Linked DNA regions of Homo sapiens. The protein of the gene in region 2 interacts with the protein of the main gene of each other region in a biochemical or structural test. Each region holds a gene or a part of one and is shown on either strand. Other genes may lie near its edges.

Region 1 (7,025 bases), on a different chromosome or scaffold from region 2:
ATCTGAAATGACCCCAGCCTTTGAACGCTCAAATGCTACCCCACCTCCGAGGTGCAGCTCATCCTGGGAAAGATTCCCTGAGCCTCCAGCCAAGTCACTTTCTCCTCTGAGGACTCAATGCACTCCCTTCTGCTCAGACACTATCACTGTGATTCTTCTGGTTTTGTTCTCATCTCTTTTCCCCCCGCTAAAATATAAGCTGACTAAGGTCAGGATCATATCTTATGCTTCTCTATTACCCCCTGTTAGAGAGGGTATTAAAGACACTGTAGCAACTAACAGCATCTTCTCACTTGCATACGGTGACTAAACTGACCTTCTGAGAAAGTTGGAGTGAATTGGAGCAGGCTGAAACAATCTATGGCATGACTCCAAAGCTGGAAATTAAAATATATTCACACTATACATACATGGAAAGAGTGTGTGGTTTAGTTTCCTTCTAGAGGAAAAAAAGTGTTTACTGTCGCCCTGCTACCAAATAAAGCAACAAAATCAGAGCATCAATATCAGCTACCAATTAACAGTAAAAACATATTCATGGGAAAAGTACAGAGGGTATACAAATTATTTATTAGAATAGCTAAGGCTCTATAAATGCAATGAACACAGTTCCCTTGGAAATATCTTTCTTATAAGTTACTGCAATGTCAATCTCAAATCCTACTCTCCCTCTTCCCATCCTCAACCACTCTACCTCCAGGCTCTTAAAAAGTATTTCTGATGCTTTTTTCTCACTGATGATTTCTGTAGTGTTTTCTTAAGGACACTATTTTGAATTGGCCAAATCTTTTAGAAGTCTCTAAGCCTATAGATACCGCCAGGTAGAGGGTTTGACTTCTAACTTTCAAGGTACCTTGAAATTCTTCCATGATCTATATGCTTTAAATAAGAATGAAATTATTTTGTGTTATTTGTTTCAGGGTTAATGTCTTAGCTAAGCAGTAACATTATTTTGAAATTATTTAGTCCCTTCAAATTAAAAAATAATTTGGGGACAAACGCAATAATCACAGGATATTAGATAGATGAGATCATTTTAATTAACTTTTCAATTAGTTTTTCCATCTGTTATCAAATCTTGCTTTCACTAAAGTTATTCCAGAAAACATACAAATGTATAAATACATAATGTTCTGTGTTTTACACTGAAGTTAAAAAAAAACTTTTGTTTTTAACTGTGTGTAGACACTATGTCTTCAGTGCCCAAAATAAGCTACCAGAGAAAAGGACATCCATTATGGGCAAAACATAAAAATACTTTATGAGTAAACCAGTGAAGCTTTTGCTTAAAAACCCATGATGCGAAAGATAAGACACCTACTAGCAAACCGCAAGCAGCACTGACCTATTTTTATTACTTCAAGACTTACCATCTAAGAGCTTCCCATGAAATACGGCCAGACCAGCAACTCTTCCAATAAAAGTGAAGTAGGACAAATGATCCTCATTACAGAGGCCTGAATTAGGGTTGATCTGAAGGGTGTAGTTGTCCCTTTTGAGGAGAAAGAGAAGAAAAGCCCAATCACACTTTCAAATGCAAGATTTTGCATATTTGTTTGCCACCTGTCACTCAACTTTTACAGTGTCCCTGCGAGCATTCTGTACCTAGTGGGAAAATGTGTGGGCTAGAGGACCTGACTTACCACATGCTCAACCGTGACCCACCATGGAGGCTGACGCATGTGCCCTCTAAAGTCAATTAAACCATAAGAGACGCTGATGTTTGACTGTTTTTGACCTACGAAGTGTCTATTTCATATGGTTCAGCCAAATATCTTGGGGAGATGAGAAACGCCACATAATAAAGGGGCTGTGCAGGGATTCCCAAAGATGTGAGTACTTTAGGTCGTCTCTGTGATGAAGGAAGTTTAATTCCTTCCAGAGGCTTTTGGCTTGGCCATAAGATGTTTGCTATGGGCCCAACCCTTGGTCTGTCTTCTGACCACTACTCTGCTCTGAAAAGGCCTCGAGGGGATTAGGAACAGGATATGGCTCTCTCAATGATGCAAACCTGCAAATTTTTAGATTTGTCCAAATGATCTTGCTTGGTTCACAATCATGTGGATCAGTAGTTTTCAAACTGGGATCACAGACTGATTCCTCCGGGGTGGGGGTATCTTTGAAAATGTGGAGAAGAGGTAAAGATCTTGTCTCTCTCCACCCTGCCCTCCACCTTCAATAGTTGGATACATTGTACATAGTGGGCTTTCTCATGGGACTCAGTAACAACAAATCAATTGGGCAATTCTTGGCTAGAGCAACCAGGAAGAATGTACTGAGGCGGCCTTCCAAATGAGCCCCCAGGAGACTGGTACCAGGTGGGAGATGTGGGGGAACCCACGTCCCCTTAGAGCCCAGGGCTGGAGTGATGACAAATGCCCTTCAGCAAGGTCAATGACTATTCTACTGGGGGCTTGGGTACTGCCCAACCCTTGGAGGATTCAGAGTCTGAAGGAGGAATGGCTGGCCTGGAAGTAGCTGATGTTTAATTGCTCAGAAAGCAATTTAGTCTGCCTCAGTTTCCAAGCCTGGCAATGATGAAATCCTAATGCAAGGGGAAACCTGGTTCTTTCCTTACAGGAGCAGGGCATGGTCCTAGGTCCTCAAAGTCCTTACAATTTGCCTTTACACAGGAGACCTCAGAAACGACTCTTGTTCAAAAAACACCTCCTTTGTTTTTGAATTCTAACACTGACAAGTCCTCCTCTTGAACACTGCAAATGAAAATCGCCTCCTGTTCCTTATCATAATTATCCACGTTTTCAATTTCAACTCCATGAACCCAATAGACAAGAAAAAAAATCAATGTTAGATGTTCGCAGAGTACACTATTTCACCACGTAGAGTCAGAACCTGTTCTAGACTTGCAAGGGGCTGTGGGGTGAGGAGAGAACAAACTCAGCAGAGTTAATGCATCTCGAACTCATGAGCTGCTTATCCTTTCATTCTGTTTAAATTCATACAACTGTCTCAGTGGGGGACACACACTGGGTGTGGCCATATACTTACGTGGCAGAGTACTCAAAGAGGCCGTAGTAGGGGTTGAACATCTCTTTGGACAGTAAGAAGAACCATTCTCTGGCCACACCCCCATAGTCAAGACCTTTCTCTGATTCAAACTCAATCCACAGTCTAGCTTTTAGGACATCTGGTCTTTTCACGGACATAATTCTCCGATAGGACTCTTCAAATATGTTATTTCTGTGAAGTTTCATTTCAAACCTATTGGGGATATCAGCCTACACAAAAGACAAAAGAAAACACATAATCATACAGTAAATACACACTTTGTTTTCTAATAAAAACAACAGCAAATGGTAGAAAAGTTGGCAGTCCTCAAAGAAACAGGCAGTGACAAATGGTTCCAACTGAGATTCTCTCCTTTAGGGGTTTTCCCTTGCAGACAGAAAGCCTTGCTGTGTCACGATGGGACACACGGCATCCACTAGCGATGCTCAGGAAAGTTAGAACTCTGCTGCGAAGGAGAACATCCTCCTTGCCCCCTTTAATAAACAACTGTGGGCACTTCTCCAGCATAGGGCAACCGAAAGGCAGTCGACTGTATCTGTTGCTTCACTCAAGAGACTTTAGCCCAGGTAGTCAAAACCTGTAATAATCCCCACCTGGCCAGGTTGGGCCTATCCATGCTCAACTGTGGCAGGGCCGCCAGGTGGTAGATATAATCCACGCTGCCTCAAGTCCATTTTGTTGCCATGGGGAGTGGGATCCTGATTATGCCAAGTGTGGGGAAAGCAGCCCAAAGCATGGTTCGCTGACATGAAAATAACAAAACACTTGACCAAGGTTGTGGCAACTGCCTCCTGCAAAGAGGCGGTCCAGGCTTGGTCTGGCTGTAAGAATGAATGTGCAGAGATGGTTTCCGGGTAGCAGACACTGCTATGTGAGAGCCATAGAGTGAGACTGGGTGATGACCACAGTCATCATCATTACCAGGGGACATGACTCACAAAGAAAACTGTGGAATTTTCAGTGATCATTTGAGTTTTGAAGGCAAAGAATCATTTCAATAGCAGTTACCCGCAAGCTCTTGAATCAGGACTTTGGAACAGAGACCAAAACCCCTAAATGAGAGCAGACATTGTGCCCCATCCAGAGATGTTCCCGGGCAGGAGGAACCAGCTGAGGGGAGGAGGCAGGGAGAGATGGCAATGGAGCCCAGGCCACCAGAGGGGGTCTGAGCTGCAGCCGCTTCTCTCCCCTCCCTAGAGGTGTAACCATAGTGATGGAGAAAATTGAAGAGAAAACTGCTAAGGAGGAATCGGAAAGTAAAACAGAGGATGCAATGTTGAACAATTTGGGGATGGTGTGTCATTAGAAAATGCAATGTTATAATTTAAAATGTTGCCCATAAAAATTTTTAGAGTTTCTAGGTTTTAAACTGCCAGGGATAATTATAAGTAGAAAATTACATTTGGACGTAATACTGCCAATTATTATAATTAAATATAACACTATATTATAAATACTGTAGTTGAAACTAAGCTTTTGCATTTACAAGGAAGGACTTGAACATTTTTCTTACCGGGATCCAGGTTAATTAAATATGATAACTGCGCATAATTGAATAGGCTTCCACAGATTTTGTGACTAGGGTTCTGAATTATTTTATATCCCATAAAAATCATTCCTGTCTTTTTATGTATTACATAGGAAATTACCCTTCAGGTGATTTGATATGTAACACTGAGTTAATTTTCACTTACCATTTCTGTTAAAAAGAAAATTCAGATTTTAGAACCAGGAGGATCAAAGTGCAGAGAGAAAAGGAAGGTAATATTTTTAGCATTCATATAAAAGTAACAACCAAGTTGTTCTCACTGAAGTGACTGTGGTAACTTACAAATGACTAACACAAAGCATTTTTGGAAGGCATGATTACTCACAGGTTTCTTTAATTTCTTCCTGAAGTAGTCATATTTCTGCTTAAATTCTCTGGAGTAAGGGACAGCCTGGAAGATAAATTTATAAATATAGATAATGCAAACAATACACCTGAAATTTTATGTATACTGAGGCAACATTCAAGAGAATTTCATGAGTCATAAACCGTAAATTCTCACTTCTCAGATTATCCATGGAAAAATTAGATAATGTCTACACAGCACAGGGGAAAGTCCTAGAACTGATGAGGGCTAATCAGCTTTGAATGCAGCTTTCACCCCTGAAAACAGCTATACTGCTATTTGAGAAACCATTTGGGGTACGCTACACAAACTAAACATGCTTTCCAAGTGACTTTTGTCAGAATATGAGTCAGGGTGTTTCTGTTTTTCTTTTTTGCTGTGGTTTAGGTAAGAGTTATTGGCTAAATACTTCTAACATACAACCCAGAATGACCTACGTTGGCATTTTGAAAAGTCTAATTACGGTTTAACGAATTTTTGTGGGGAAATACAACGAGCAGAAAGGGAAGTGAACTGACACTCCTATCAAGGAATATAAAATCAGGCAGATGGCATTCTCAAAAAATCCTCAATTTAGAAGTCAGAAGGTTTGTCCCTTAATATTTAGTGGTCTTGGGCAAGGATTTCTTTAAATCTCAAATGCTTTATCTATGAAATAGAGTGATAGTACCCCAGTTGAGGGCTCAGGAATTGAGTTAACTATAGTCATTCAAAAGTTGTGATATCTCTTCAGGCAAAGGAGTAACATGTTAATGTAGTCATTTAAATAATCTTTATTTGCTACCTTGTAAAGTAGCTTACAATATCTTAGAGTCAGGGCCGTGAGTTTTGGCTACTGAAAAAGCTTACGATATTTTTATGAGCAAAAAGGATTGGGTTTTGCATATACACAGACATTAACTATGACAGCCTCGAAAACAACTCATTGCTTTTTAGCCACTAGTATGAATTTCAGCAGAGAATACTTCTGCTGTTATCATTTCGGCCTAAGTTAATAAAATATACTGATCCTTAGTCTAGTATCTCCAGACTCCAAACCTTACACTTTCACCATACTTATCTTGACCAGAAACAGAAGAAATGAAGAACATGAACTTCCCTCTTTTATAGTTTTAAGACATGTTTATATAAAAAACCCGAAACAAAACAAACAACCACTCTTCCAGAAAATGAGCACGTCAGTGTTTTGCTCTGTAATTCCAGAGCAAAAAATACATCATCTTTATATAGCTTAGGAGCAATCTATAGACAATTTACACTGCCTATGGTCTTTTCTTAGTTTTTAAGCCAGTCTTCTTTGATTTTCCACTGAACAACAGATTTGACCTCACATCCTATTTATTTTAGGCAGTGTTTAGTCTGATGAAACCACATAGCAATTCTGAGTCTAGGCAAGGTATAAATTTGTTAATACCTGGACAACCACCAAAATAAGAAAAAGAATACAATGTTCTGACATAAGCCAATAAAGAGATCATGTTTTCTGCTCTACCAACAGTACATCCCGTCACAAACTAAGATTTCCTCTCTAGTTTATTTCTCACTTTCTGGTGTTCATTCTCGTCCATTCAACCGATACTTCTTGAGCACCTACTCTGTGCAAGGCATTTTAGGTGCCAGAAAAATAACAGTACATAAACCAAAGGTAGCTTTCCCAGTTCCCTCCTGGAGCTCACAAGCTGTTGAGAGCAACAGGCAATAGGAAATCAATGAATAAACCGTGGTAGTGCCATGAGGAAAAAAATGACCCCATAGGAACTAAAAAAGTGACTTCCTTCCACTCTCTCCTGCCAGCGTTAGAAGGCCTGCACTCTCGGGTAGACTCTCATCAGCTGGCTCTGCATCACATCCTCTCTACTAAGGAGTTTCTTCACTGTTAAGTGGAAGAATTTGACTGGATGAACAAACGTGACTCAGCTCTTCTATTTCTGAAAGTCTGTGATTCCCAGCAACTATTTTTTGTTTGTTCCTGTATTCGTGAGGGTTCTCCAAACATCACTGTTACATCACAGTTCCCCCTACTCCTGAAAATGTTGGAAAAAAAGCTTAAACAGTCATCACTGTGTATGCAAGTTCGACTGTCTTAAATGACAAATTCCC
Region 2 (7,500 bases):
GCTAGAATTCTAACTGGAGCATTTCTGCTCCAATGTTTACACTCTTAACCACTGTTATATTGTCTCTCTAAAGCTTTTAAATCATTTAAGTGGTGTCACAGCAGCTGGGTATGACCTGTAAGAGAAAAAAAATCAGAGGCCTTCCTTTAACGTGTTCTGTTCCACATGCACAAAAAGCTATGGATCTGGTACTATTCCACATTTTAGTGGCCTGAACTAATTCCAACAGAAAAGATTTTTATTTGTACTGAATGTTATGCTCTTTGTGTAAACCACACTGTAACATACAACTAGGCTTCTCCAATATGTTCCTGGCCTTTAAAGTGGTCACAAAAAGAGGTAATTATTTCAAAATAATTTTTACTTTAATCCTTAACTCCTAAAAAGCGTTTCTTCCTCTTTTCTTTCATTTCACAAAGATTTAAATTTGTATTTCGCATAACCCAAAATGACGATGTTATGAAGGCCCAAAACAAAATTCACGATTTCATATCAATACATACTAAGAGTGAAGATTTAAACCTTCCTCTTTCATGAAACACCAATCTTGCCAAATAAACTCCAGTCATAATTAAATACAGGCAAATGTAGTATCAGGTCTATTTTAGTAAAGGCAAATTCTTGCCATTCCTCTCAGAACTCTTTTTAAAAAAGTAATCTATTAAAACCAAAGTTTCTAACACTCACCGACACTCCACAATTTTTCTAGTAAGGCTGAATTTATTCCATGACATTTTTTTCAAGTTAGCTGTAAACACTCCACCCTCTTCGATTGTGCAACAACCAAACACATCACACAAATACAAGTCACAAAAAAGGGAAATACAGTTTAAGAGTTTGAATTTAGGTAAGTTTTGAGCAGAGGATCTTAGAGCAGTGCACAACGCGATATAAAAGTTAACATTTAACAAATCATATTAATTCACATTATTACGAAAGGAGATGCCGGAAAGAGCCTGAACCAGTTAAAGCAGCCGCCATCTTAAAATGCGGGATAGAAGTTAGAGCAAGAAAATGAGACTAAACCACCGGAGGTGGAGGTTCCGCTCACTCCCAGAGCTCCGAAAAATCCTAGTTTTTTTTCAACTTAAATCGATAATATACTATCAAACCACATTTCAAGTAACGAAACAAGGGTGTTATTAAATAGAATGAGGCAAAAATAGGTACATTAGCTTTCCCTTACTGCCATCGCACCCCTTATCCACCCCCACTCTCCAGCCAAAAGGAAAAGGGAGCTTCCAGAATGCCTTTTACATCAGTTCCCGGTGTCCCTCGGATAAATAGCTTCGGGTGAAAAGCTGCAACTACAAAATACAGGAAGTGGCAACACTGTGTCATTCCATCTCCTCCCAAACCCACTTATTCGGTGTAACCTGCCCAGAGTCGACTAAGAGTTTCTACTAGACTCACTGACTGACCTTCAATACGCAAGACTTCTTCTACCCGACCCTCAGTCAAGTTCGGGACTCGCCAGATTTTTTTTCTCTCCTCCGAGTTTTCTTTCTTACCCCTAGAAGGCCTAGATAACCTTGATCTCACAACTAAACTAAGTTTTCAAGCACCAAGAATAGGAAGCGCCATGACATCTGCTGGAGCGTCTCTCCGCAATTCGGACCCCCAAAAAAACTCCTTCTTAAGCAGCAAAAAAATAAAATAATAAAGGCGCCTTAAGTCACTCTCCTCCACCCCTAATTTGCACCGATTCCACTGAAGCACTCAGGATAACACCTCACTTGCCACAAGTGTTCTCCGTTTCCTAGCTTTAAACTTCATTTCTTCAAGAAGTATATCTGCGTTCTCCATCCCCCCATGGAAGAAGTGATCCAAGAGGTATTTTCAGAATTATGCTTCCTTCCCACCCCCACGCTTTCCTCTTGGCCCGAGCCTTCCTTTTCTCCTACCACCCCATGCCCTTGTCCCCGCGGGTTACCTTATTAATCCGTTTCAGCGCCATAGTGTGTGCTTGTCGTCTGGCTCCTCACTCTCTCGGTGTATGCTCAAAGGTCCGGCCAAAACTCTTGATTATCCCGGCGGCGGGGCAGGATTGTCTCGTCTCACACCAGCTCTGCCAGACACAGGCGCCTTTTGCAAAAACGGAGCAGATCAGCACTCGCACAGGCCCCGAAGAGCCCCTGATGAATCCAGGTCCCTTAAGACAGCCGCGATCCGGGGTGGGTGGGGTGGCGTGGCAAAGCCACCAACAGCCTCTGTACCGTGCTTTCGGCCCGAAGTGGGGGCGAGGGTGACGGGAAGAGCGGAGGTGGTGGCTACAAGTTTAACTTCCCGGCCTCTAGAAAGGAAGAGACCCGGGTGGGAGAGGAAGAGGCGTAGGAGAAAGGGGTGGGTGCGGGGCAGGGTCCGGAGCCCAGCAGAGGAGGAGCCGGGGCCTAGTCGGCGCTATACCGGCGTCACTAGGGCAAAGAAAGGCAAGGGGGGAGGGGGAAGCATAAGACTCCGGACGGACGCCGGGCTGCTTTCGGTTTCTGTCCAAAGGTGCGGCCGGGAAAAGGAAGGAAATAAAGGAAGGGAGACTTGATGTGTATTGCTATCCTCGCAGCGAGCTATTCTGTGTCACCCCTGACGCCACCGTACACTCACTCCGCCTTCCAGCGCGCTCCCGCGCGCGCCCGCCCAGCCACCTCCACCACGCGCCCGCGCTGTCCCTGAGGCTCCGGCTTAGGCGCGAGGACGCGCCCATTCCCCCTCCTCCTCCAGCAGGAGAGGCCGCGGCTTCCCCAACCTTCCCACCCTAACCCACCGCACCCAATAGGCTGGCCGCTCAAGCCGCCCAGGTCCCGCACTGCCCCTCTTACCCGGCCGGCCACTGGGCCGGCCTCCCTTCCCTGCCCTAGCCGTCCACACCCACGCGTACAGAGGGGCCGGGGCCTCCCTCAAGCTGCGGCCTCGGCCTCCTCCCCGCGCGGCAGCTGGTGCCTCCCCGGCCCTACGGGGCTCACGCGCACGACACAGCCACAAGATGTCCGCTCTGACGGAACTACTGCCAGCTGCCACGCTCCGCCCCTCCCCCTCCTCCTGCCTCTTCACCGCCGCGGATCAGTCCGCCAACGCCGCCGTCCCGAGCACAAGACCGATGTGAGGCCGAAGCCAGACGGCTTGCTTCCCACGTCCGGGGCCGAGTGAATACGTGTCAAGCCCTTTTCCTTCTTCTCGGAACAGCACCTTCTTACTAAACAGATCGGAGATTGGACCAGGAGGGCGGGGGAGGGAGGAGGATCATGAGCTGGGGGGAGGGTGAACGAGTGGCGGAAACCCTTAGGCTCAGAGAAGCATCGAGAACCGGAAGGAGACCATGGGAGGAAGGTAAAGGAAGCAGCCGCTGCGCGATCCAGCCCCACGCCCCTCCCCACAGCGTCCCCCAGTTTCCTCACTTGGTATCGAGGAGACGACTCTCGCGAGAACTTCGTGGCTGGCTAACCGAAGCGGTAGCTCTGCAATGACTTAAGAGCAGTTTTGTGCGCTTTTCCTGACGGGGTTCCGCCTCCAAAATGCATAAGTTCTCGCGAGACGCAGTAAGGCACCGGCTCGAACTGGGGCGGGCCACTGCCAGGAAAGCAACGCCCCTGAATGCTTATGCCGGTGGTTGGTAGAGGAAATGGAATTCCCCAGACTGGTAAGAGCGCGCGCAGACACAGCCTTGTCTCACGCGCCCAATCAGGAGCGTGTGGTGGGAGGTGCCAAGGATTAATTACCAGATACCTTTAGTCTAGCTCGGGCCGGGATTTTGAGGTTTCCGGTGGAGCAGGTGAGCAGTATTTACTCGCCTGCCCTCCTGGGCTGGTTATGCTGTGGGAGGAGGCGCCCCTCGAGATGGGAATAGTAGTTTTAAATAGACCCAGGTTGGCCGCTCATCAGCGCTCCCACGTGCTGAAGTCTAGTGCACGTCTGACCCTAAGGGAGCAATACTGAGAACAGCAGGGAGCAGGCTGAGTCAAGCTCAATTGAGTGGATGGGGCTAGGACAGAGAGAGTTAGGGGCAGGGTTTTCACTGGTCTCCGTAATCAGTCGCTGCCGTCCGCCAAGGTGTAGATGTGGGAACAAGCTTAAATTCTCAAACTTTAGCTTCTGTTGCTGTGTTTCAGTTCTTGAGCCAGAAAGTGTTGAGACTAATTAGTTAATTAGGTAGAGTTTAGAGTCAGAAAAACAATACAATACTTCCTGAAATATCCAAGTTGGGAGGTGGGATTTACCTCAGTAGGATTGGCCTGTTTTAGTCAAGGGTTTAAAGTATGGAGACGGCAGTTATGCTCTCTAGTGTATCCTTCAGGCAAAAGAAAGACCTTAATTTTTATGAGGAATTTAAAAGTGGGTAAGCACTGACCAGCTTAAGGTTTTTTAACATTCCTTAATGACCCCAGTTACCGAAGTGGAGATCTTCAATTACTTGGAAAAATAAACTTGTTTTAAAAATACACTTAATTTGAAAACTGTTGCAGAAAGTTTTACCTAATAAAAACTTAACACGTCAACAATGATGAATATAAGTAGTCTAATGTATACTGTTCAAGTGACCATGTAGTGTCACTAGTGAAGCAGTGCTTCTCAAACTAGTGTCCATAGGAACCACCTGGGGTTTTGTTGAAAATGCGACTTTGATTTGGTAGGGCAGTGGTGGAGCCTGAGAGCCTACATTTCTAACTAGCTCCCAGGTGATACAGATTTTTCTCGTCTGAACCACCCCGTGAGTAGCAAAGCACTGAAGTGCTTACCTCATGGCCTAACTGCTCATGAGGCTCACCTCAGTAACACCTCTGGCCCCTCCCTCCTCCCTGAATAATCTGTGTTCTCTCTCATAGCTAGCCAGATATACTAAAAGCACAGGACTAGGCATGAAGATGGAGGGAGGAACCCAGATTAGTTATTGCTTCCCATTTGCTTGATATTGGCCTGGTTAGTTATCTTCTAACCCCGTTTCTTCACCGCTAAAGTAAGTAATAATGACTGTCCTTTCTCACAGGGTGATTGTGTGGTTAAAGTGTCATAATATATGTGAAAGGACACTGGAGACTCTACAGTGCTGTATAAATGTCAGTTATTAAAGTAACCAGTCAGACATTAACTGGCCATAGTGTGAAACAAATGTATAGTAGTAATAGTGGCCACGCCTGTAATCCCAGCACTTTGGGAGGCTGAGACGGGTGGATCATATGAGATCAGGAGTTCGAGACCAGCCTGGCCAAAACAGTGAAACCCCATCTCTACTAAAAATACAAAAAATTAGCTGGGCGTAGTGGCGGGCGCCTGTAATCCCAGCTGCTTGGGAGGCTGAGGCCGGAGAATCGCTTGAGCCTGGAAGGCGGAGGTTGCGGTGGGCCAAGATCACTGCGACAGAGTGAGACCCTGTCTCAAAAAAAAACAAGAACAAAAAACAAAACTAATATATATGGAGTTCTAGATTATCCATGCTTATAAAGGCAAGTGATTGTGTAATCACAAACTCATTATTGTTAGGCAGTGAAGTAAATTCATTGGTTGATTGGGCTTTCTGTTTACAAGTTTGTATTTGCATAAGTGGACTTACATTTCTGCTTATATTTTGCCATGGTTAAAATCAAAAGAAACATAGCCTAGAAGCATTTTGATGCCTTAGGATAAAGCAGGCTAAGATTAAGTTAAATTTTAAAACATTATTCATGTACCTGTTGTTACAGAGAGCCCACTTTACAGTTGCAAATAAAGTTAAAACATTTTCATTCATTTAACTTACTTGAATTACAATGGTAGAGATGTCCTCATTTGAAACAAGAAAGGAAAATAATCATGTTTTTTATATTGCAGTCGGAAATAATGCTAACAAGAAAAAAATTATGGCTGTAAATACTGAAAGAAAAATTTACATTTAGAAATTAATAAAGGTACAAAAATGTTGAAAATTTAATTAACTAAAAATAATCCCTTCCTTAATAAATACTATTTTGAAGTCCTAAAAACTTTGTAAATATAGTAGATCAGATTATCTTGCATGAATTGACATAAAACATGAGAAAATAGAAAGGATCAAGAAAATTAAAGCTGGGCTGGTGGCTTACGCCTGTAATCCCAGCACTTTGTGAGGCCAAGGTGGAACGATCACTTGAGCCCAGGAGTTTGAGACCAGCCTGGATAACATAGGGTGACCCAGTCTCTACAAAAATAATAAAACAATTAGCTGAGCATGGTGGTACACGCCTATGGTCCCAGCTACTTGGGAGGCTGAGGTGGGAGGATTGCCTCAGCCTGGGAGGTTGAGGCTGCAGTGAGCTGTGATTGTGCCACTATACTCAAGCCTGTGATGGAGCAAGACCCTGTCTCAGAGAAAATTACTAGTAAATGGGCAATTAATCTACCAATCTGAATAATGGTGGTGTGCCAGGGTCTTATTACATGAATTTTTCAGTGAGGCCACGTTATTATAATAACTTGAGAGTAAGGGGTTAATTAGAATGTATTGATGAATAAACATAATTAACAGATTTTATATATATGTACTTAATATTGTATCTATGTTTTCATGTATCTTTAATTTTGTTACAGAATATTATAACTTGCCAAAGACACTGGCTCTAGTACAGTGTATACCATTTTATTAGTTTAATTAAATTGTAAATGCTACGGTCCAGATTTTATATTCAGAATGCTCATTTACATATTCTGCCTGGACCAAGTAATTTGGAGCCCAGGTCAACCAAATGTTATTTTACATTGTTTGCACAAAAATCAAATTGATTTCTATACTTAACAATTCAGAATCTCATTAAGTCAAATTAATATGGTTTAAGAAAGTGTACTTTATTTCATGCTAAGATGTCATTTTGGCCTTAATAAGGCTTTTGGCATGTAATGAAGCATGCACAAATCTTTGAGATAAAAATAGAGCATTTTTCCACACAAAAACATATATATACACAAATGTTCAGAGTAGGGCTATTCTACTTTTTAGTAGAAACAACTCAAATGTCCATCAGCTGATGAATGGATAAAGAAGATGTGATATATGTGTATAATGGAATATTATTATTATTATAAGGAACAAAGTACTAATACATGTTACAAAATGTATCTTGAAGCCTTAAAACATTCTGTCAAGTGAAAGAGCCAGACACAAAAGGCCACATACTGTTTGATTCTGTTTATGTGAAATGACCACAATAGTGCATTCTGTCTTCCAAAAAGCTGGTTTACTTACAAACACAGGTTAAAAAAATATATATTTGTAATACTGCTTTTGGTGTAGGGTGAGGCACGATAAAGAGACTTTCATTCGGTTTGTCAATCAGTGATACTTAGGTCTGAATAGGCAAGTGGGAGTCTTTCAGGTTTAGGACAAAGAATGTTAATGTAGTAGAGATCTGTTGATAGAGTCACTCCTAGTTTTCTATTTATTTAAAAAACATCGAATTACTATTAGGTGCTAGACACTGAAGATACATAAAAGACACAGATGTCATCTATAAGAAAGTCTCTTGAGGAGACCAGTAAGCATCAGACAACATCATAGAG
Region 3 (7,025 bases), about 100 Mb from region 2:
TCCGAAATCCAGCAGAGCAGTCCAAATCTCAAAGCTCCAAAATGATCTCCTTTGACTCCATGTCTCACATCCAGGTCACGCTGATCCAAGAGGTGAGTTCCCATGGCCTTAGGCAGCTCCACCCCTGTGGCTTTGCAGAGTACAGCCTCCCTCCCGGCTGTTTTCACTGGGTGGTGTTGAGTGTCTGCAGCTTTTCCAGGTGTACAGGGCAAGCTGTCAGTGGATCTATCATTCTGGGGTGTGGAGGACAGTGGCCCTCTTCCCACAGCTCTACCAGGTGGTGCTCCAGTAGGGACTCTGCTTGGGGGCTCCAACCCCACATTTCCCTTCCACACTGCCCTAGCGGAGGTTCTCCATGAGTGTCCCGCCCCTGCAGCAAACTTCTGCCTGGGCATCCAGGTGTTTCCATGCATCCTCTGAAATCTAGTGGAGGTTCCCAAACCCTCATTGTTGACTTCTGCGCACTCGCAGGCTCAACACCATGTGGAAGCTGCCAAGGTTTGGGGCCTGCACCTTCTGAAACCACAGCCTGAGTTCTACTCTATGTTGGCCCCTTTTGGCCACAGCTGAGACGGCTGGAACGCAGGGCACCAGGCCCCTAGGCTGCACACAGCAGGGGAACCCTGGGCCCAGCCCAGGAAACCATATTTTCCTCCTGGGCATCTGGGCCTATGATGGGAGGGGCTGCCATGAAGGCCTGTGACATGCCCTGGAGACATTTCCCCCCACTGTCTTGGGGATTAACGTTTGGCTCCCTGTTACTTATGCAAATCTCTGCAGCTGGCTTTAATTTCCCCTCAGAAAATGGAATTTTATTTTCTAGCACATTGACAGGAGGCTGCAAATTTTCCAAACTTTTATGCTCTGCTTCCCTTATAAAACTGAATGCCTTTAACTGTACCCAAGTCATCTCTTGAATGCTTTGCTGCTTAGAAATTTATTCTGCCAGATACCCTAAATCATCTTTCTCAAGTTCAAAGTTCCACAAATCTCTAGGGCAGGGGCAAAATGCGGCTAGTCTCTTTGCTGAAACATAACAGGAGTGACCCTTGCTCCAGTTCCCAACAAGTTCCTCATCTCCATCTGAGACCATCTCAGCCTGGATTTCATTGTCCATATCCTTATCAACATTTTGGTCAAAGCCATTCAACAAGTCTCTAGCGAGTTCCAAACTTTCCCACATTTTCCTGTCTTCTTCTGAGCCCTCCAAACTGTTCCAATCCCTGCCTGCTACCCAGTTGCAAAGCTGTTTCCAAATTTTCAGGTATCTTTTCAGCAGCATCGCACTCTACTGGTACCAACTTACTGTACCAGTATGTTTTCACGATGCTAATAAAGACATACCTGAGACTGGGCAATTTACAAAAGCAAGAAGTTTACAAAAGCCAGTTCCAAATGGCCGGGGAGGCTTCACAATCATGGCGGAAGGCAAGGAGAAGCAAGTAAGTCATGCCTTACATAGATGGCAGCAGGCAAAGAGAGCTTGTGTAGGGAAACTCCCCCTTATAAAAGCATCAGATCTCTTTTGTTTTTTTAGATTAAGTCTACTCTGTTGTCCAAGCTGGAGTGCAGTGGCATGATCTCGGCTCACTGTAATCTCCACCTCCTGGGTTCAAGCAATTCTCCTGCCTCAGCCTCCCAAGTAGCTGGAACTACAGGCATGTACCACCATGTCCAGCTAATTTTTGTATTTTTAGTAGAGACAGGGTTTCACTATGTTGGCCACACTCATCTTGAACTCCTAACCTCGTGATCCGCCCGCCTTGGCCTCCCAAAGTGCTGGGATTACAGGCATCAGCCACCGCCCCCGACCTAAAGCATCAGATCTCTTGAGACTTATTCACCATCATGAGAACAGCATGGGAAAGACCTGCCCCCAAGATTCAATTGCCTCCCACTGGGTCCCTCCCACAACATGTAGGAATTCAATGTGAGATTTGGGTGGGGACACAGCCAAACCATATCAGCACCTGTATTCCCATTTACTTGGGACACTGAGGCAAGAGGATTAATTTAGCTTAAAGTTTGAGGCTGTAGGCAGGGCATGGTGGCTCATGCTTATAATCCCAGCACTTTGGGAGGCTGAGGCGGGCAGATCACCTGAAGTCAGGAGTTCAAGACCAGGCTGGCCAACATAGTGAAACCCTGTCTCTAATAAAAATACAAAAATGAGCTAGACGTGGTGCTGCCCACCTGTAATCCCAGCTACTCGGGAGGCTGAGACAGGTGAATCACTTGAACCCAGGAGGTGGAGGTTGAAGTGAGTTGAGAAAGAACAAGATTCTGTCTTTAAAAAAAAAAAAAAGTTTTAGGCTGTACTGTGCTATATAATTGCACCTGCAAATAGCCACTGCACTCCTGCCCGGGAAACATAGGAAGACAACCTTCTCTTAAATTAAAAAAAAAAAAAAAAGAAAGAAAGAAAAGGGCTGGACGTGGTGGCTCACACCTGTAATCCCAGCACTTTGGGAGGCCGAGGTGGGTGGATCACAAGGTCAGGAGTTCGAGACAGGCTGGCCAACATGGTGAAACCCCATCTCTAGTAAAGATACAAAAAATTAGCCAGCCGTGGTGGCACATGCCTGTAATCCCAGGTCCTTAGGAGGCTGAGGCAGGAGAATTGCTTGAACCCGGGAGGCAGAGGTTGCAGTGCTGAGATCGTGCCACTGTACTCCAGCCTGGGTGACAGAGCAAGACTCCGTCTCAAAAAACAAACAAAAAACAAAAAAACACAGATGATCATGATGGGAGAATAGGAGAGAACATTTCTACCTGAGGCATTTTCAACTTTTCAACTTGCAAGAGTAGGAGGCGAGAACCAACACTGGAAGACATCAAGAAGGTACTTACAAGGGAAGCAAATTTTAGTGCAGGTAACACAGAATGCTGCCATATTTAGGAGCAGAATTTAGCAGTAGTTTGGCTAAAGTAAGAGGTGAGGTGTGGCAGACAGGGAAATGCCTAGGCCCTAGGACAACTTCCCTTAGCTGGTGAGAGGAGAAAACTTAGGAAAAATAACTTTGAGGAATACAATACAGTTACTGAGAATCAATAAATTTTCTTGAGGATAATTATCAGACTCCTCTGCGGTGAAAGCAAAAATAAAGATACTATTTTGTTTTTACTATTTGAAGTTTCTAGAAACATTGGCCATGTGCTTTCCCACCACACAAAAAAAGCAGATGACATAACAAAGCCTAACAAAAGGAACAAAGGTAGGAGTCAGGGGTGGGGTGAAGTTTCGAGCTCTGCTTACTAATTGTGTGACCTTGGGCAAGTGACCCTGATCTCCCAGTGCCTCAGGAAGAGTAAAATGGGGCTAACTACAACAACTATCTTATAGAGTGGTTCTGTAAGAGAGTAAGAAGTAGGGAATCACTCAACCATAGATATTAAATCATGAGTCTGGAGTCTGAGACCAGCCTGGACAAAAGGGCAAGACCCAGTCTACAAAACTTTGTTAAAAATTAGCCAGGTGTGGGCCAGGCGAGGTGGCTCACGCCTGTAATCCCAGCACTTTGGGAGGCTGAGGCGGGTGGATCTTGAGGTCAGGAGATCGAGACCATCCTGGCAAACACGGTGAAACCCTATCTCTACTAAAAATACAAAAAATTAGCTGGGCATGGTGGCACGTGCCTGTAGTCCCAGCTACCCGGGAGGCTGAGGCAGGAGAATGGCGTGAACCTGGGAGGCGGAGCTTGCAATGAGCCGAGATCGCGCCACTGCACACCAGCCTGGGCGGCAGAGTGAGACTACATCTCAAAAACAAACAAACAAACAAACAAAAAGCCAGGTGCGGTGGCGTGCGCCTGTAGCCCCAGCTACTTGGGAGGCTGAGGTGAGAGGATCTCTTGAACCCAGAAGTTGGAAGCTGCAGTGAGTTACGATCGCACCAATGCACTCCAACTGGGGCAACAGGGAGATATTCTCTTAAAAAATAAATAAAAAATGCTAATGATCATTTGAGTCTTCACAAAGTTGTAATATTTTTGCTGGTGAAGGGTCTTGCCCTGATGATGGCTGCTCATGGATCAGGGCAGTGGCTAATGAAGGTTGGGGCAGCTGTGACAGTTTTTCTTTTTCTTTTTTTGAGATGGAGTTTCACTCTTGTTGCCCAGGCTGGAGTACAACGGCGCAATCTTGGCTCACCGCAACCTCTGCCTCCCTGGTTCAAGCAATTCTCCTGTCTCAGCTTCCCGAGTAGCTGGGATTACAGGCATGCCCCACCACGCCCAGCTAATTTTTTTGTATTTTTAGTCGAGACGGGGTTTCTCCATGTTGGCCAGGCTGGTCTGGAAGTCCCAACCTGAGGTGATCCGCCTGCCTCGGCCTCCTAAAGTGCTGGGATTACAGGCGTGAGCCACCGCACTGGGCCAACTGTGACAATTTCTTAAAATGAAGTTTGCTGCATCAGTTGTCTCTTCCTTTCATGAAAGATTTCTCTGTAGCGTGCAATGCTGTGTGACAGCATTTTACCCACAGTGGAACTTCTTTCAAAATTGGAGTCAATCCTTTCAAACCCTGCCACTGTTTTATTAACTAAGTTTATAAAATATTCTAAATCCTTTGTTATAATCTCAACAATGTTCACTGCACCTTCAGCAGTAAATTCCACCTCAAGAAACCACTTTCTTTGCCTGTCCACAGGAAGCAACTCTCCATGTGTTCAAGTTTTATTTAAAAATTGCAGCAATTCAGTCACATCTTCAGGTTCTACTTTTTTTTTTTTTTTTTTTGAGACAGAGTCTCGTTCTGTCAACCAGGCTGGATGGAGTGCAATGGCGTGATTTCGGCTCGCTGCAACCTCTGCCTCCTGGGTTCAAGCGATTCTCCTGCCTCAGCCTCCTGAGTAGCTGCGATTACAGGTGCGTGCCACCACACCTGGCTAATTTTTTTGTGTGTTTTTAGTAGAGACGGTGTTTCACCGTGTTAGCCAGGATGGTTTCAATCTCCTGACCTCGTGATCCGCCTGCCTTGGCCTCCCAAAGTGCTGGGATTACAGGTGTGAGCCACCTTGCCTGGCCCTTTTATTTTTTTGAGACAAAGTCTCACTCTATTGTCCACGCTTGAGTGCAGTGGCCCGATCTTGGCTCACTGCAACCTCTGCTTCCTGGGTTCAAGCAATTCTCCTGCCTCAGCCTCTGGAGTGGCCGGGATTACTATGCAGTAACAATCCCACTACCACGCTCAGCTAATTTTTGTATTTTTAGTAGAGACAAGGTTTTATCATGTTGGCCAGGCTGGTCTCCAACTCCTGACCTCAGGTGATCCATCAGGCCCAGCCTTCAGGCTCTACTTTTTTTTTTCTAGACAGAGTCTCGCTCTGTCGCCCAGGCTGGAGTGCAGTAGTGTGATCTCGGCTCACCACAACCTCTGCCCCTCCAGGTTTAAGCAATTCTCTGCCTCAGCTTCCAGAGTAGCTAGGATTACAGGCGTGCGCCACCACGCCCTGCTAATTTTTTGTATTTTTAGTAGAGACGGGGTTTCACCATCTGGCCAGGCTGGTTGTGAACTCCTGACCTCGTAATCCACCCGCCTAGGCCTCCCAAAGTGCTGAGATTACAGGCGTGAGCCACCAGGCCCGGCCAGGCTCTACTTCTAATTCTAGTTCTCTTGCTATTTCCACCACATCTACAGTTACTTTTTCCATTGAAGTCTAGAACCCCTCAAAGTCACCCATGAGGGTCAGAATCAACTTTTTCCAAGTTCTTGTTGTGTTAATTGATTTTTTTTTTTAAGACGGAATCTCACTGTTGCCCAGGCTGTAGTGCAGAGGCACAATCTCGGCTCACTGCAGCCTCCACCTCCTGGGCCCAAGCGATTAACCTACCTCAGCTCCTCAAGTAGCTGGGACTACAGGAGCGTGCCACCATGCCTGGCTAATTTTTGTATTTTGTTGGTAGAGACGGGGTTTCACCATGTTGGGCAGGCTGGTCTCAAACTCCTGACCTCAGGTGATCTGCCTGCCCCAGCCTCCCAAAGTGCTGGGATTACAGGCGTGAGCCACCGTGAACTGCTGATGTTGATATTTTGACCTCCTCCCATGAATCACAAATATTCTTTTTTTTTTTCTTTTTTGAGATGGAGTCTCGCTCTGTTGCCCAGGCTGGAGTGCAGTGGTGCTATCTTGGCTCACTGCAAGCTCCTCTTCCCGGGTTCACACCATTCTCCTGCCTCAGCCTCCCGAGTAGCTGGGACTACAGGTGCCCGCTGCCAAGACCGGCTAATTTTTTGTATTTTTAGTAGAGATGGGGTTTCACCATGTTAGCCAGGATGGTCTCGATCTCCTGACCTTGTGATCCGCCCACTTCGCCTCCCAAAGTGCTGGGATTACACGGGTGAGCCACCGTGCCTGGAGACAAATATTCTTAATGGTATCTAGAATAGTATATCCTTTCAGGAGGTTTTTAATTTACATTGTTGATACCCATCAGAAGAATCACAATCTATGTAGCTGTAGCCTTACAAAATGCATTTCTTTCTTTCCCCCTGCCGCCCTTTTTTTTTTTTTTTTTTAAGAGACTGGCAGTGGAGGGGGTGGTCTCACTATGCTGCCCCGGCTGGTCTCTAACTCCTGAGCTCAAGCGATCCACCAGCTTTGGCCTCCCGAAGTGCTGCGAGTACAGGCATGAGCCACTGTGCTCAGCCTCAAGATGCATTTCTTAAGTAAGATTTGAGAGTTGAAATTACTCCTTGATCCATGGGCTGCAGAACAGATGTTAACATTAATCTTACTCATCTCCATGAGACCTCTTTGGTGACTAAGCACATTCTCAATGAGCAGTAATATTTTGAAAGAAATCTTTTTTTCTGAGCTGTAGATCTCAATAGTGGGCTTAAAATATTCAGTAAAACATACTGTAAACAGATATGCTACTATACAGGCTTTCCTGTTTCAATGATCAGCACACAGTAGATTTTTGCATACTTCTTAAGGGCCCTAGGATTTTCAGAATGGTAAATGAGCACTAGTTACAACTTAAGTCACTGGCCACACTAGCCCCTAACAAGAGAATCAGACTGTC

Evidence for each region.
Region 1: the proteins of UBE2D3 (region 2) and NEDD4L form a complex in vitro, tested with the Homo sapiens proteins (7 studies listed by BioGRID).
Region 3: the proteins of UBE2D3 (region 2) and RNF4 form a complex in vitro, tested with the Homo sapiens proteins (6 studies listed by BioGRID).

The regions. Positions count from the first base shown.
Region 1 is NC_000018.10:58,362,213-58,369,237, reverse strand, and holds part of NEDD4L (E3 ubiquitin-protein ligase NEDD4-like), read right to left. Parts: intron 4,971-7,025; coding exon 4,905-4,970; intron 3,240-4,904; coding exon 3,010-3,239; intron 1,493-3,009; coding exon 1,371-1,492; intron 1-1,370. UniProt on the Homo sapiens protein: E3 ubiquitin-protein ligase that mediates the polyubiquitination of lysine and cysteine residues on target proteins and is thereby implicated in the regulation of various signaling pathways including autophagy, innate immunity or DNA repair.
Region 2 is NC_000004.12:102,824,552-102,832,051, forward strand, and holds the start of UBE2D3 (ubiquitin-conjugating enzyme E2 D3), read right to left. Parts: upstream 3,001-7,500; 5' UTR 2,876-3,000; intron 2,308-2,875; exon of another isoform or gene 2,086-2,307; 5' UTR 1,958-2,085; coding exon 1,934-1,957; intron 1,312-1,933; exon of another isoform or gene 1,187-1,311; intron 767-1,186; exon of another isoform or gene 688-766; intron 1-687. UniProt on the Homo sapiens protein: Accepts ubiquitin from the E1 complex and catalyzes its covalent attachment to other proteins. In vitro catalyzes 'Lys-11'-, as well as 'Lys-48'-linked polyubiquitination.
Region 3 is NC_000004.12:2,472,093-2,479,117, reverse strand, and holds part of RNF4 (E3 ubiquitin-protein ligase RNF4), read right to left. Parts: intron 1-7,025. UniProt on the Homo sapiens protein: E3 ubiquitin-protein ligase which binds polysumoylated chains covalently attached to proteins and mediates 'Lys-6'-, 'Lys-11'-, 'Lys-48'- and 'Lys-63'-linked polyubiquitination of those substrates and their subsequent targeting to the proteasome for degradation.